2 separate regions of the Homo sapiens genome follow, and region 2 is linked to region 1. The links come from fine-mapping of genetic effects on gene expression. A gene starts in region 1. The other region holds a variant in brackets. All regions are shown on one strand. Distances are from middle to middle.

Evidence for each region. PIP is the estimated chance that this variant, and not a neighbour inherited with it, causes the effect.
Region 2: its variant is the best candidate, but not a certain one, in a credible set for the expression of SPRYD3 in whole blood (GTEx, PIP 0.64).

The regions. Positions count from the first base shown.
Region 1 is chr12:53,076,370-53,081,745 of GRCh38, forward strand. SPRYD3 (SPRY domain containing 3) reads right to left here and starts at 3,021. Exons shown (of 11, transcript NM_032840.3): 1 at 2,942-3,021; 2 at 746-892. The coding sequence starts at 2,964. RefSeq lists a silencer at 2,722-3,001.
Region 2 is chr12:52,711,625-52,717,000 of GRCh38, forward strand. It overlaps the pseudogene KRT126P. Among named protein-coding and RNA genes, the nearest start is that of KRT77, 11 kb to the left of the region's middle. The variant G/A (reference allele first, on the strand shown) is at 2,741.

The DNA of each region.
Region 1 (5,376 bases):
AAACACACACAAGCTAAGGGGCTGGAAATACAGGAGTTGGTGGACAGGGTACACTATAGAATGGCCCTTCCCCAAACAGGAAATCAACTATCTCTGAAACAGCCACTCTTCACTAGATCTAATCCCTGAGACAGTGGCAGAAGACTCAGTTACCCCACTGGAGTCTTCTCAACAAAGCACCTAGGAAGCTTCTGAGACCCCAGCAGCCTCCTGTGTCTGATGTGATCCCTTCCCCTACCCAGCTGGATCCCCTCCTTGCTGGATGAGGACAGAGCCACCCAGTGACAGAGGCAGAGGTGAGTGCAGGGTGAAGCAGCACACACTGCTCCACTCAGAAAGGCCTCTGGGCGGGTGGATCACTTGAAGTCAGGAGTTCAAGACCTGCCTGGCCAACATGGTGAAACCCTGTCTCTACCAAAAATATAAAAAATCAGCCGTATGTGGTGGTGCACGCCTGTAATCCCAGCTACTTGGGAAGCTGAGGCAGGAGAATCGCTTGAACCCAGGAGGCGGAGGTTGCAGTGAGCTGAGATCACGCCACTGCACTGTAGCCTGGGTGACAGAGCGAGACTCTGTCTTAAAAAAAAAAAAGAAAAAGAAAGGCCTCTGGAGTCAAGAGCATCGCCCTTCCCTGTGCAGTGCACAGTCCCCTTCTCTGAAAAAATAAAAGTTAAAAAAAAAAAACCCTTTCCTCTCTAAGATCTGGAACAGAGAAGAAAATGTGGAAGCATTCTCCTGAACTCACCTTAAAGTATCTCCATCTACAAGGATATGTTTGAACCTCTCCTGATATCGGAAAGCTCGGACCTCTCGAATCTCCCGGATCCGCCGGCGCCAATTCAGAAACCGGTAGTGCAGGTTGAGGTCATCCATCTTGTTCATGAGAACAAACCTGCCAAGGGGAGAAGGGGATTGAGGAGAAAGCAGGGCCCTAGGTAAAGCACCTCAGCCTCTGTGACCCAGAAGGTAGAGAAGGCACTGGCCTTGAGGCCAGCTGCCCAGATTGACCTCAACAACCCTCATCTTCTTTCTTCCATTCAACAAACATTTACCAAGCACCTACTCTGTGTGCTTTTCTCCGTGCTAGGGATGGAGCTGTGAACAAGATGGACAGGATTCCCATTCTCACAGGCTGGGAGGTGGACACGACAGGCAATAAACAGACATAATTTCAGGCAGTGGAGAAAAGAACAGGGTGATATGATAAAGAATCTGGAGGCAGTGGATAGAGTGGACAGAGGCGGTCTCTCTGAGGAGGTGACATTTGAGTTGAAAAGGAGCTAGGCATGACAAGCCAGGCATATTCCAGGCAGGAAGGGCAGCCACAGGTCCTTGGATGGAAGAGAGCTGGCATGGTAGAGAAACAGAAAAAGGCATGGACAGCTGGTATATAGGGAATGTGAGGGAGAATGTACAAGATGAGAATAAGGCAGGAGTCAGATCATGGCCCTACAGACAATGAAATGGTAAGGACTCTGGATTTTATTCCAAGATGGAAATTTCTGGAGGGTTGTAAGCAAGGAAATGCCATGATTGGCTGGGTATGATGGCTCATGCCTGCAATCCCAGCACCTTGGGAGGCTGAGGCAGGAGGATCGCTTGAGGCCAGGACCCAGACCAGCCTGGGCAACGTAGTGAGACCTCATCTCTACTAAAAATTAAAACAATGAGCCAGGTGTGGCAGCATGCACCTGTAGTCCCAGCTACTAAGGAGACTGAAGATGGCTTGAGTCTGGCAGGTCAAGGCTGCAGTCAGTTCTGATTGTGCCACTACATTCCAGCCTGGCTGACAGAGCAAGACCCTGTCTCAAAAAAAAAAGAAAAAAAAATGCCATGATCCTGGGCCTGGTGGCTCACGTCTGTGATCCCAGCACTTTGGGAGGCCGAAGTGGGAGGATCACAAGGTCAGAAGTTGAAGACCAGCCTGACCAACATGGTGAAACCCCATCTCTACTAAAAATACAAACAAATTAGCCAGGCGTGGTGGTGCGCACCTGTAATCCCAGCTACTCAGGAGGCTGAGGCAAGAGAATTGCTTGAACCTGGGAGGTGGAGTTTGCAGTGAGCCGAGATCGTCCCACTGCACTCCAGCCTGGGTGACAGAAACTCCATCTCAAAAAAAAAAAAAAAAGCCACGATCTTAATCAGTTCCTAAAGATCATTCCAGCTGCTGGTTGGAGAACTGATCACAAGAGGATCAAGAACAGATGTGGGCAAACAATTCAGACGTTGTTGCAGCAGTTCACATGAGAAATGACATCCACTAAGTCGGTAGCAGCGCCGATGGATGGGGGTGGGATGATCCAGGTATTTAAACAACCATCAGTCCCTACATATAAATGAATGAATGATTTTTCCTGGGAGCCAAAAGTGAGAAAGAGGTGAAGTACTCTTCTCTTCCCATTCCCTAAACACTGGGACAGGGGTTTTCTTGAGGCCTGACATTGCCTTGCACACGGTAGGTGCTTAGTAAGCCTTGGCTGGGCTGAATTTGATCCCAATACGCAAATTACGACTCTTATGCAGTAGCTACAACCCACCACGTGGCCCAGAAGAGTAGGCACCTGTGGGACAGACAGCCCTAAGATTCCACTCCCGGGCACTCAGCCAGGACTCAACCCCAGGTAGATGCTGGTTGCGCAGACCCCACAGTCTTGGCACCGGCGAGTGGCGGCCCTACTGGGCCCTGTCTCCTCCCCGGGCACGGCCTGATCACTGAGATGAGACCCGGGAGCAGCCGGGCCCCAGCCCATCCGTGTGCCTACGCCCAGTCTCCCCAGGCCCTGCACTGGGCCGAGGGTGCAGCAACAGAAGAAGCCCAGTGACCAGAGCGCAGGGCCCCGCCCCTGGCCCCAGAGCCCCCGCCCAGGACCCCCGCCTTCCGCTTCAGGCTCCGGGGAGATACGAGGCCTCCGGGACCCCGCCCCCGATCCCCGCCTACCGGGGCCGCCGCGTCCTCCTCATCCATAGGCCTCTCAGCTCCGCACACAAGCTCTTCGGCCGCCGCCACCACACACATCCGGGTCCCCGCCTTTCCTTCACTCCTAGAGGCCCGCCCCGTCCCCCATCTAAGCCAATCAGCAACGGCCTCTGACGACGGGCACCTGCAGGAGCCAATCGGAAGGCGCAGGCAGGGTGTGGGGCGCGGCCCGGTGCCCTGGGTACCCAGCTCAGGGCCCCGGTCTGGTCAACCCGGCTGTTGCTGGGGTGAGCGAAGGCGACGTGGCAGCGCGGACGCTGCTGGGTGCCTGGGCGCCGCTGAGGCGGACAGGGGGCGGCTCTTGAGCGGCGCCGGGGAGACGGGACGGGCGGAGAAGGTGGCCACGCTCGCACAAACGTTGCGAGTATTACTTGAGCCCTCCTTCCGCGCTGGACTGAAATAAAAGCTTTACCGGAATGTCCATTTAATCCACGGTGCAGCCTTATGAAATAAATCTTATCTCCTTTTTACGGATGGGCCGAAGGCTGGCCTCGATAGCCTGCGCGCTTAACTGTTATGCTGTGTACCCTCCCGAGCTCTGTTTCATGGCACCGCTCGCTCATTATTGGCAAGAACATTCCATTCCAGGAGGAGAGAACTGGGGATGCAGAAGGCACAGTGGCACGAAGCGGCATTCTGTGGAGGAACACAGGGCTTTGGTAGGCTGAAGGAAAGTTAGACTGGGGTTAGAATGTGAAGGGACGAAGACACGAATATTTATTGAACACCTACTAGGGAGTGCCTACCTGCCATTCTGGGGGGTTGGACTCCTAGATGAGGACTTCCTTGCTCCCTTCCCATCACCATATCTCTCTCTTCTGGACGGAAAAGATTCCTCTCCTCTGTAGCACCTCATTTATAATACTTTTTTTTTTGAGACGGAGTCTCACTCTGTCGCCCAGGCTGGAGTGCAGTGGCGCGATCTCGGCTCACTGCAAGCTCTGCCTCCTGGGTTCACGCCATTCTCCTGCCTCAGCCTCCCAAGTAGCTGGGACTACAGGCGCCCGCCACCACGCCAAGCTAATTTTTTTTGTATTTTTGGTAGAGACGGGGTTTCACCGTGTTAGCCAGGATGGTCTCGATCTCCTGACCTCTTGATCCGCCCACCTCGGCCTCCCAAAGTGTTGGGATTACAGGCGTGAGCCACCGCCCCCCGCCATTTATAACACTTATTACCGTCTTGCTTTCGTTATTGGAGTTACTTGTGTGTGTAGACCCGTCTCTGCTAGACTGTGAGCTCCTTCAGACCCCAGACTATTCTATTCTTATCACACTAGGTACTCTAACGTGTTGAGTGCCAGGAAAGCCATCAGCTCGCATACCGTGAATAGTGCCCACTCGGCATAACGGCAATGGGTGATAGGAATAGATGAGATGGGAAACAGAGAAACCCGGATTAGAGCCCCAATTCTGTGTGACTAAAAGGTCAAGGTCTTGGTGTTCTCATCCCTAAACAAGAATTATTGAAGTATGTGTTCTTTTAGCTCCCTTCCAGCCCCTGGATGACTCAGTTCTGAATAGCTACCCTTCCAACTCATCTCCACCTCCTTTTGATTCCCTCATTGCTTCTCCTCCGCTCCTCTTCTTGTGTTATGAAAATACCTCAACACTGAGCTCAGCTCTTCCCAAAGGCAGCCAGAGAGGGACAATCTTAGGAGGCTGCCAGAGTCATGTTCATCCCAGACCAGGGCTCATTCCAGAAACTAACTAGCTAGGTGGCTAGGGTCAGACATGGAGAGAAATGGCAGAAGAAGGCATTTCCAAACTGTTACTGATGGTTGGTGATTCCACTCGGGATTTCCTCACCTTTAAGTTCCAGATGTGGGGCTCACCTTTTTGGCGAATTCTCCATCCATTGGCATGCTCAGGACCCAGTTGGTAATTTGTGTTTGGTGTCTACATGTATTTGAATAAACAACTTTATTGCCATATAACCGACATACAATAAACCATATATATTTAAGGTGTACAATTTATTCCTTTCTTTTTTTAATTAGAGACGAAGTCTCACTGTGTTGCCCAGGCTAGTCTCAAACTCCTGAGCTCAAGCAACCCTCCCACCTCAGCCTCCCAAAGTTCGAGGATTACAGGTATGAGCCACTGCACCTAGCCAAGGTATACAATTTGATAAGCTACTTATATACCTATGAAAATGAAAATGTCACCACACCCAAGATAGTGACCATATCATCATCATCCCTAAAAATTTCCTCATGCTCCTTTATAATCCCTCTCTCTCACTCTTTCATCCCTAGGAACCACTAATCTGCTTTTTGAAACTTTTTTTTTTGAGACAGAGTCTCACTCTGTCGCCCAGGCTGGAGAGCAATGGGGCAATCTTGGCTCACTACAACCTCCACCTCCCGGGTTGAAGGGATTCTCCTGCCTCAGTTTCC
Region 2 (5,376 bases), 360 kb before region 1:
AGGCTGAAATATTCACTGCAACCTCCACCTCCCGGGTTCGAGAGATTCTCATGCCTCAACCTCCCAAGTAGCTGGGATCACAGGCATGTGCCACCACGCCCAGCTAAAATATTTGTCTTTCAATGTCTGGCTTATTTCACTTAGCATCATGTCCTCCATTTTTCTATGTTGTTCCAAATGACAAGATTTCCTCCTTTGTATGGCTAAATAATATCCCTTTGTGTATATATTCTACATTTTCTTTGTCCATTTATCCATCAACAGACACTTAGGTTGATTTCATATCTTGGCTATTGTGGATAAAACTGCAGTAAACATGAAGGTGCAGATATCTCTTCAAGATAGTGATTTAATTTCCCTTGGATATATACTCAGACGTGGAGTTGCTGGGTCATATGGTAGTTCCATTTTTAATGTTTTGAGGAACCTCCATACTGTTTTCCATCATGGCTGTACTGTACAAACTTACCTTCCCACCCACAGTGTACAAGTGTTCAACATCACTAACCATCAGAGAAACGCAGATCAAAACCACGATGAGACATTACTTCACAACTGTTACGATGGCTATATCAAAAAGATAAAGGATAAGAGTGAGGGCGTGGAGATAATAGCAAAGACTTGGAACCAACCCAAATGTCCATCAAAGATAGACTGGATTAAGAAAATGTGGCACATATACACCATGGAATACTATGCAGCCATAAAAAAGGATGAGTTCATGTCCTTTGTAGGGACATGGATGAAGCTAGAAACCATCATTCTCAGCAAACTATTGCAAGGACAGAAAACCAAACACCACGTGTTCTCACTCATAGGTGGGAATTGAACAATGAGAACACTTGGACACAGGATGGGGAACGTCACACACCAGGGCCTGTCATGTGGTAGGGGGAGGGAGGAGGGATAGCATTAGGAGATATACCTAATGTAAATGACGAGCTAACGGGTGCAGCACACCAACATGGCACATGTATACACATGTAACAAACCTGCACATTGTGCACATGTACCCTAGAATTTAAAGTATAATAATAATAAAAAAGAAAAAAAGAATGAGGGCGTGGAGAAAAGAGAATCCTTGGACAGTGGGCTTGTTTTTGAGAGGTGAAGCCATAGCCCCTCCCAGTGCAAACTGCAGTGGACAGTCCCCAGGCTTCCTGCTCTCTGATTTAGACTATCCCAGATAAGTGCTTCACCCTACAGCAGGAACATTCTCTGTTGAAGCTGTAGTTATGTGTTGTTTTTCTAGTGTGGTGAGCCTTTGGCTATCCCTCTTGGCTTTTTGTGTACTTAGCTAAGAGTTTCTCTGATCTGTTATCAAGGAGAATTGTCTCTTTCTTGCTTTCTCTGACAACCTTTCTCAGTCCCCCACACTAGTGAGCATTTTACCAGGAAGGCCACCATGCACGTATGCCTTTGCATGTTTGCTTATGTTTTACTTCTCCCACTCACATGCCCTAATTTGCAAGGGGCCCCCACATCCGGCACCAAACCTCTGTTTTATCCAAGTATTCCTGGATCTGCCTGTATTCTGTGCTCTCATCTGGGGTAGGGGTAGGGATGAGGGTGGAGGTGACCTGTTACCAAACCATTTGAAGTTCTTTGTTCTCATAACTGTCAATATTTGAAGGCTCCGCCCCACATCATATCAAACATGTTAACATACATCCCTGGCATATATAACTTTTGCCATAAAACATTTGAATTTTTATAATTGCTTTTGAAAATGTTTGACTACCAGCAACTCCTTTGATTATAATTAGCTGTGATTACTGGATAATTTCATACATATTTCGAATTACTAGAAAAACAAGGAAATCTAACCTACGACTTTTTTCAAATAAAATGAAATGTTTATGAATTCAAATCTGAACAATTAGGAAGGTTGATGTATGTCATCCATAGTATCTCTTGGGTGAAAAGGCCCTGCCCCTCCAGCCTGGGAACTCTCAGTACTTCCTCCCCAGGGTCCCCCTCCCAGCTCAGACCAGAGCTGTGTGTGTGAAAGGGACTGTGAATGACCCACTGGCCACAAAGAAAGTCTCAATGACCTGGAAACCAGAATAAAAATTCTACCATGATGTCTGAAGCACAACGCACTTTATCGAAGATTGTACAGAACAGAGAATTCCTTTCTTGAAGCCAAGACGGGAAATCAAAGTACCAGCAGGAAGTGGTGACCGGGGAGGCCCTGCCTACAGGGAGGGGAATGGGCCGATTGGAACTGTCCCATAAGGCAGTGGGACATTGGCGGGGGTGAGGGCACCTTCAGGGCACAAGTGGTGACATGGGGGCCCAGCTCCTGGCCACTGCCTTGTGTGGGTGGATGTTTTTTCAGATTCTGTTTGTTTGTTTAGAGATAGGGTCTCGCTCACTTGCCCAGGCTGGAGTGCAGTGGTGCCATGCTAGCTCAATGCAGCCTCGAACTCCTGGGCTCAAGTGACCCTCCCGCCTCCGCCTCCCAAAGTGCCGGGATTACAGGCATGAGCCGCCGAGTCCGCCGTTGAGGGTTTACCGCCTACTCATCCTTCGCGGCAACTTTCGGGCTGCTGCGATGCCAGCAGTCTGGGAAGGTGGGGCTCCGGGGCACAGGTCAGAAGCAGCGGAGGGAAGGGGCCCCGCGGGGGTGCGGGGGAGCTCAGAGCGGGGCGTGCCGGAGGGCGAAGGGGACTGGGGTCCGAGGACGCCCCTGGCGCGGGGTTCAGAATTTGTGGCGGGACCGCCAGCTCTAGGAGGA[G/A]CTTTGTTCTCTCTGGCGGCGCTGCTGCCGCCGCCGCCGCCACCCCGGCTGACGGCGCAGGAGTCCCGGAGCCAGAGAAGCCCCCCGAGCACCGCGGAGCTCCCGCCCAAGCCCCAGCCGCTGCGGCCCCGGCTACCGCCGCGGGCCCGGGCTCCGACTCCTCCTCCCAGGGCGCAGCCGCCGCCAGTGCTGCTGTGGCCAGTCTCTGCAAAGACGGTCGGGGTCAGGGAGCCTGGCAGTGTCCGCCCGGCACGCCAGCCCCTCCCACAGTCCCGAGCCGCAGGTCTTCCCGGGGTGACGCCCCGCCGAGATCCGGCAAGGCGTGGGGAGGACAGGCTTCAAGGAGGGGAGGGGAGGTTGGTTCCTCCAAAACAGCCACCAACAGCTCTTCCAGCCTGCAGGCCTGATGGCCTCGCACCAGCGCTGGCACATGGCTTGAGAAACTGCATTCCGAGGCCTCCAGCCCCTTCCCGGAGAAAGAACCCAATACTCACCTAGGATCACGGAACTCTGGCACCTCCCAGACACCCTGTGAGGAAAACCAGAGAGTTCGCTCAGTTCCTCCCTCTCCTTAAACGGCCTTCCTTAGGTCAACAGCAAGGAGAGCCTTGGTCACCCCACCCCCATTCCCTCCTGATTGATGTAGAGAGTGAGAAATAAGCTGGACGGGTGCTCAGAAAATCATAAAACACATTCTTCTTTCTATTGGGTAAGGTTAAAGTGTTACTCTTTCCACTGACATCTCCCAAAGGGATACAGACCAGAGGATACAGAACATTTCTGGACCCACCCATCCTCTCCACCTCCTCAGGATACTCTTCATTTAGCAAATGCTGTTTGAACCCACATGGGACAGAGCCCTATACCCATGTGCCAGTGTACGGGAACACACTCTTCAAAAACTTGCAGTTAAGGCATTAATAAAGAAATGGTCTAGAAATAACATTTATGTCTATGACCCTTCATCTTCGCAGACATACACTGTATAGCTAAAACATAGGACGTTATTCCAGGTAAGGCGCTAACGTGTTCATATGGCATAGGAAGCACAGCTTTCTTGGTGTGACAGCATCTCCCAGCCCTGAACAAGAGGCTGTGCCTGCCAATGGCCACCGCCACCTCCCACAGAACGCACAGCTCCCACACCTGGCAGCACGCTCAGGCAGGAAAGCCCCAGGCCTCTGGCCTCCTGGGAACCAGACGGACTCTCACCTGCATTCCTCGCCCTCCAGGAGGGTCCGGTAGGTGGCGATCTCCACGTCCAGGGCCAGCTTGGCATTCATCAGCGCCTGGTACGCACAAAGCAGCAGGGCCAGGTCCTCTTTGGCCTGCCGCAGTCCAGACTTGATGTCCTGAAGCTTGGCATTGGTGTCCTTGAGGGCCACCTCCTAGCGCTGCTCTGCATCAGCGATGGTCATCTGCAGCTTGGCGTTCTTAGTGTGGGGAGCCAGGAGTCCAATTTAGATTCGAATGTCATTCACTGACGGCCCGTCCTGTGTGCTTGGTGCTTGCACGTGTGTTACCTGATGTTGGGCAAGTGAGGAAACCCCAGGCACAGGGGTTAAAGGCTATGCAGCTGGTCAGCAGAGAAGCCTGGGCTGGGATCTAGGTCCTAGCACACCAGGGAGTGGGATTAGAAACACCTGGCTTTAAGGGGCTATACCAACTCAGGAGGAGCCAGACCCTTCCTGTGCCTCTCTCCTTTTTTATGGGAAATAACTGAGCATCTTCTGAAAACTTCCCTCCTCCAGGAAGTCTTCATGAATTATCAGAGAAACCTTCTCTCTGCCTTAGCCCATCTAGATGTGGGCTTCCTTGGCTACTCCCCGAATTCAGTCTTCAACAGTCAACTTCTTTCTCCAACCACCTAATCATGTCTTTACTCAGTTTCTATCCCATATCAACCTTCAAGCTCCAGGGAAGCAGAAACTAAATCCACGTAACAATCTTAGTTCAGCGCTAGCCCAGCACATCACCCAGGAAATCTTAGTGTACGTGAGTGGGGGCATGATTTTGCTTTGCGTAGGTGCTAGGCCTGAGTGTCATGATGGAAGCATAAGCCCACAGCCCTGGTCATGTTCTTTTCCTCCTCATCCCCACCTGCTTCTTGATGCTCTCGATCTCCACCCACAGCCTCTGGGTCATCCTGTTGAGCTCCATGATCTCATTCTTGGTGTTCCTCAGGTCATCCCCATGCCTGCTGGCCGTGGTCTGCTGCTCCCCCAACTGTGTCCAGAAAAGTCACATTTTCAGAAAAGGGGTCTTATGGCTCACCTGCTTCAACACCTTCATACCACAAATGGAAAAACCAGAGCACAGTCGTATACAGACCCAGTGCTCTCTCCCCACACCAGAAGCCCTGTCTTCCAGAACAGTAGCTACTGTCTGTTGAGCTGTCGCTGTGCACCAGACCCTCTGTTTTATCTCATTCATCCTCACAACAACTTGATGAGAAAGGCATTATTATCCCCACCTTATACAAAAGGAAAACTGAGACTCAGATTGCCTGAGTTCCATGACCAAAGTCATCCAGCTATGGAGTGACAGTGTGGGCACTTGAATGCAAACATCCCAGATGCTGGAGCCAGCTTCTTTCTTAACCAGCAGAAAACCCAGGGGAAGAGTCAAATGTAGAT